2 separate regions of the Homo sapiens genome follow, and region 1 is linked to region 2. The links come from fine-mapping of genetic effects on gene expression. A gene starts in region 2. The other region holds a variant in brackets. All regions are shown on one strand. Distances are from middle to middle. Region 1 overlaps SLC15A4 (solute carrier family 15 member 4). Region 2 holds the start of SLC15A4 (solute carrier family 15 member 4).

Region 1 (2,905 bases), 29 kb after region 2:
CCACGTCTGCACATTGAGTGGTGATGTTAGCCGGTGCTGGCTGAACTCTGTTCTCTGGCGGAGAGACTGCCAGTTTGCAGAGTGGACAGTTCCAGACCTCTGTGAAAGGGGGATCATGACCGTGGCACGTGTTGCTAGCACCCTCACCGCGTCCAGACTCCCTCTTGAGTGCCTTTCTGAAATGCTGCTCCTCGGCGCTTTCCCCATTTTACAGATGAGGAAACTGAGCACAGAGGTCTCAGAGGCCGGATTCAAGCCTTATAGCTTGAGCTGCATGGCCCATGATCTTATCCTCTGTGCTGTCCAGCCTGCTTGGGATGCAGACGTTGCGTGTAAAGTGCCTCCATAGTGCCCGGGACTCGGTTGGGTATTCAGTGTATGCTAACTCTTTGTATTAAAGTATGCAGAGGTATCTGCTTGTGTCAGTTTGAGGATGCTAAAACCTGAACATGTTTAAGACACATTCAGAAACCAGCTCATCTCTTCCTTTGATACATTGCCCAGCTGTCGGCCCTGGTGTGTTGGGTGTGTCAGTGACCCATGCAGTGAATCCAGAATTCACGATGTTCAGGCTGTGTCATAGTGCAATCTGTGATGCTAAAAAGTGCACAGGTTCCATAGCCAAGTTACAAAGACGCTCACCTCAGGATTCGATAAAGAGATAGTCAGGCGCTCTTTTGTTATCTTCGCATCTGCCTTCCTCAACAATGCAGTTCCAGGCCAATCATAACTATAAATGGAGGAAGTTCCCCTGAAGTAGTTGAGGAGAGGAACACTGCCTCAGAAAAGGCAGGAAGGAAATAACACCAGACCGGCTAACACTTGTTTCTGGTGGCAAGAACACAGGAAGGTAATTTTTTACTTTGCCCAGCTGTTCTGGTGTGGGGGGATTAGCAGTCACAGGAGGCTGGGTTGGCAGGTTTCCCCTTGCTCCTGATTTGCAGCCTTGTCGTGCGGCCTTAGGCACACTCTCCGTCGACACTGTCCCCTTCACCACCGCATGTGTGTCTGCAGGCCACGCAGGGATTTTCCTGAGTACTGGGGAGCTACCTTTTCTAGTTTCCTCAGGGAACCTCCTCCTTTTACCTTACAGAAGAGAGGGATGGGCTGCTAGGGGCAGGTGGGGGGCTGCAGACAGCCCACCTCCAGAGCCCCCGGTGGCGATGTATCTGACTTCAGGGAGCTTCTTCAGTGGTTTTGAAAGCAAGATGCTTGTGCATTTTGGACTACAGAGACAACATTTGTTACTTTTTTTATGACTCCAGTTAAACCTTAGTGGGAACCAGATTAAATAGTAAAGTCTTGAAAAAATACCTGTAGCAGCGCAGCTTACCTGCCGCTTTCCTTTTGTTTTCTCCAGGTAATATTAACGGCTGCTATTTGAACTATTACTTTTT[T/C]CTTCTGGCTGCTATTCAAGGAGCTACCCTCCTGCTTTTCCTCATTATTTCTGTGAAATATGACCATCATCGAGACCATCAGCGATCAAGAGCCAATGGCGTGCCCACCAGCAGGAGGGCCTGACCTTCCTGAGGCCATGTGCGGTTTCTGAGGCTGACATGTCAGTAACTGACTGGGGTGCACTGAGAACAGGCAAGACTTTAAATTCCCATAAAATGTCTGACTTCACTGAAACTTGCATGTTGCCTGGATTGATTTCTTCTTTCCCTCTATCCAAAGGAGCTTGGTAAGTGCCTTACTGCAGCGTGTCTCCTGGCACGCTGGGCCCTCCGGGAGGAGAGCTGCAGATTTCGAGTATGTCGCTTGTCATTCAAGGTCTCTGTGAATCCTCTAGCTGGGTTCCCTTTTTTACAGAAACTCACAAATGGAGATTGCAAAGTCTTGGGGAACTCCACGTGTTAGTTGGCATCCCAGTTTCTTAAACAAATAGTATCACCTGCTTCCCATAGCCATATCTCACTGTAAAAAAAAAATTAATAAACTGTTACTTATATTTAAGAAAGTGAGGATTTTTTTTTTTTTAAAGATAAAAGCATGGTCAGATGCTGCAAGGATTTTACATAAATGCCATATTTATGGTTTCCTTCCTGAGAACAATCTTGCTCTTGCCATGTTCTTTGATTTAGGCTGGTAGTAAACACATTTCATCTGCTGCTTCAAAAAGTACTTACTTTTTAAACCATCAACATTACTTTTCTTTCTTAAGGCAAGGCATGCATAAGAGTCATTTGAGACCATGTGTCCCATCTCAAGCCACAGAGCAACTCACGGGGTACTTCACACCTTACCTAGTCAGAGTGCTTATATATAGCTTTATTTTGGTACGATTGAGACTAAAGACTGATCATGGTTGTATGTAAGGAAAACATTCTTTTGAACAGAAATAGTGTAATTAAAAATAATTGAAAGTGTTAAATGTGAACTTGAGCTGTTTGACCAGTCACATTTTTGTATTGTTACTGTACGTGTATCTGGGGCTTCTCCGTTTGTTAATACTTTTTCTGTATTTGTTGCTGTATTTTTGGCATAACTTTATTATAAAAAGCATCTCAAATGCGAAATCCATGAGCCGGTTCTTTGCGTGGTTTGTCCTCAGTCGCTGCTGGTGTGGCGTGTGGATTCCTCCCCTGTCGTGTAGAAGGCGCAGAGCTTCCCGAGTCGGGAACTGAGGGGAGGGTGGGGAAGTGCGCTCCTGCACAGCCCTCGGATGCTCCGGCGCGTCTCCTGATTCTGCAGCCTCCTCTGCATGGAAGGGTAGTTTCAGCATTTGGAGAAGACAAAAAACAAACCAAAAAACCCTCACGTTGTTGTTCGTTGTGTAATAGAAAGTATAGAAAAACTATAGAAAAATACAAGACATTTCAACCAGTGGAAGTAGGATAGAGTGAATACAGATGACACTCATGGTATCACTGGATCTCAGAGGGGCCGGAGTTGTGAGCCCAGG
Region 2 (2,905 bases):
CCAGAGGCAGGGGGCACAGTGAGGAACAAAACACAAGAGAATCCTGCCATCAGGAAGCTTACACCTGTTAACACATGCAGGTTGGGGAGATAAACGAATAAATTAAAAAATGTAACAGGTAATAAGGAGAAAAGAGTAACATGATGGAATGGGATACTCGGGCCTTGGACAGGCTAGTGAAAAAAATGTTTCTCTGAAGTCAACACTTCGGTGGAAGGTTGAAGGATGAGAAGCCAGCCATGCAACCATAGATGGTGTAGGGGCAGTCTCTGGGAAAGCCTGAAACAGGCTGGAGCTTGCCTTGTTCTAAGCCAGTGAGTCTCAATGGGGGCGTATTTGCCCCCAGGAGTCCTTCGGCAAAGTCTAGAAGACATTTTCGGTTGTTAACCTGAGGTGCTAGGGGGTGGAACTGGCCCCTAGTGGATAGCAGAGGCCAAAGCTGCTGCTGAACATCGTGCAACGCACAGGACAGTCCCGTCGCTCAAAGTGCCAACGATGCACGGGTTGAGAAACCGGGTCCTCTCCAGGACTGAAGCCCAGGGCAGGGAGCACGGGGGCAGCCTGAGCAAACCCGCCTGGAGAGCAGCCGCCGTCTCAGTGTGAGTTTTGGCTGCCTACTGGGCCCCACCGAAGCCCGAAGAGGGCCAGGCTCCGGCTTCTTTGTTTAAACTCCCTTAGTCCGACTGCCTGCAGTGGCTCATGCACGTAATTCCAACACTATGGGAGGCTGAGACGTGAGGAACGCTTGATGCCAGGAGTTCGAGACCAACCTGAGCAACAAAGCGAGACCCCATTTCAAAAAACTGTTTAAAAATTAGCCACAGGCAGCGGCGAGCGCCTGCGGTCCCAGCTACCCGGGAGGCTGAGGTGGGAGGGCCGCTTGATCCTGGGAAGCTGAGGCTGCAGTGAGGCGTAACCGCATGACTGCGCTCCAGCCTGGGCGAGAGAGGGAAACCCTGTCTCAAAAAGGCAAACAAAGGCTCTCGGCCGCCAAGCTGCGGAATCCCAAGCTCCCCAAGACACGCAGTGATCCAGAATACCGGCCACCTCCTCGCCTAGTGCCCGGGGCGGGGCCGGAAGTTCCGGCGAGTGGGGCGTTGAGCAGCGGCGAGCCCGCCCAATAGGGACATCTCAGGCCCGGCAGTCTCGCGAGAAGGGCGGCGGCCCTGGGTTCTGGGACAGGTGACCCGGCGGCGGGGCGAGGCAGCTGGCGGCGTCGCATGGAGGGCTCTGGGGGCGGTGCGGGCGAGCGGGCGCCGCTGCTGGGCGCGCGGCGGGCGGCGGCGGCCGCGGCGGCGGCTGGGGCGTTCGCGGGCCGGCGCGCGGCGTGCGGGGCCGTGCTGCTGACGGAGCTGCTGGAGCGCGCCGCTTTCTACGGCATCACGTCCAACCTGGTGCTATTCCTGAACGGGGCGCCGTTCTGCTGGGAGGGCGCGCAGGCCAGCGAGGCGCTGCTGCTCTTCATGGGCCTCACCTACCTGGGCTCGCCGTTCGGAGGCTGGCTGGCCGACGCGCGGCTGGGCCGGGCGCGCGCCATCCTGCTGAGCCTGGCGCTCTACCTGCTGGGCATGCTGGCCTTCCCGCTGCTGGCCGCGCCCGCCACGCGAGCCGCGCTCTGCGGTTCCGCGCGCCTGCTCAACTGCACGGCGCCTGGTCCCGACGCCGCCGCCCGCTGCTGCTCACCGGCCACCTTCGCGGGGCTGGTGCTGGTGGGCCTGGGCGTGGCCACCGTCAAGGCCAACATCACGCCCTTCGGCGCCGACCAGGTGAGCCGCGCCCCCGCGCGCTGTCCCTGTCCCTGTCCAGCCCCTGCCCAGCCCCAGCCTCTTCCCCTGCCCCAGTCCCTGCCTCTGACCGCGGAGGGAGCCCCTTGCCCCGGGGGGCTTCTGTCTAGTGCCGAGGAATCCCGCCAGCAGGTGGGCCAAGACTGGAGGTACCGGTGTGATGGGTGCTGGAAGGGGTTTGCCTGGGGCGGGGTGAGGTCTACACACACAGTGATGGCCACAGTGGCTTTAAAGAAAAGAGAGGCCGGGCGCGGTGGCTCACGCCTGTAATTCCAGCACTTTGGGAGGCCGAGGCGGGAGGATCTCTTGAGCCCAGGACTTTGAGACCAGGTTGGGCAACACAGTGAGACCTCATCTCTACCAAAATTTAAAAATTTGCCCTCCGTGGAGGCGCACACCTGTAGTCCTAGCAGAGAAAGGAGGATTCCTTGAGCCTACGAGTTTCGGAGGCTGCAGTGAGCTAGGGTCACACCAGTGCACTCTAGCTTGGGTAACAGAGTGAGACCCCACCTCAAAAAAATAAATAAATAAAATTTAAAAAATACGCTGAGCGCAGTGGCTCACGCCTGTAATCCCAACACTTTGGGAGGCCGAGGTGGGTGGATCACCTAAGGTCAGGAGTTCGAGACCAGCCTGACCAGCCTGGCTAAAAATACAAAAATTAGCCGAGCGTGGTGGCGGGCACCTGTTCTCTCAGCTAGTCGGGAGGCTGAGGCAGGAGAATCGCTTGCACCCGGGAGGCAGAGGTGCGATGAGCCGAGATCGCGCCACTCCACTCCTCCAGCCTGAGCGACAGAGCGAGACTCTGTCTCCAAATAAAAATAAATAAATAAATAAAAAATAAATGAACGGGACCCTTCTATGTTCAGGCCCTGTAAGTTCAGACCAGAAGGCTAGGAAAGAGCAGTTGTTTGAGGAGCTTTCCAGACATGGGGATTCGCAGGTGCAGGGCCCTGGGCCAGGAAGCTGAGGGAAGGGGAAGCCCCCGTTGTTGCCTTAGCTTCCTTTACAAAGAAGTGGGAAAACACTCATATTGCGTCTTCGTGGCTTTAAAGGAGTTACGGGCTAGGTTGGGTCGGAAAGCTCAGATGAAAATGAGTTTGAATCAAGTTAGCATCAAG

What was found.
Region 1: its variant is fine-mapped to the expression of SLC15A4 in monocytes after LPS (Quach 2016, PIP 0.95).

The regions. Positions count from the first base shown.
Region 1 is chr12:128,792,812-128,795,716 of GRCh38, reverse strand. It overlaps SLC15A4 (solute carrier family 15 member 4), which reads left to right. Exons shown (of 8, transcript NM_145648.4): 8 at 1,361-2,523. The coding sequence ends at 1,521. Among named protein-coding and RNA genes, the nearest start is that of SLC15A4, 30 kb to the left of the region's middle. RefSeq lists an enhancer at 434-573. The variant T/C (reference allele first, on the strand shown) is at 1,398.
Region 2 is chr12:128,822,259-128,825,163 of GRCh38, reverse strand. It overlaps SLC15A4 (solute carrier family 15 member 4), which reads left to right and starts at 1,206. Exons shown (of 8, transcript NM_145648.4): 1 at 1,206-1,766. The coding sequence starts at 1,221. LOC124903083 (a long non-coding RNA gene) reads right to left here and starts at 1,220. Exons shown (of 2, transcript XR_007063602.1): 1 at 1-1,220. RefSeq lists an enhancer at 1,296-1,455.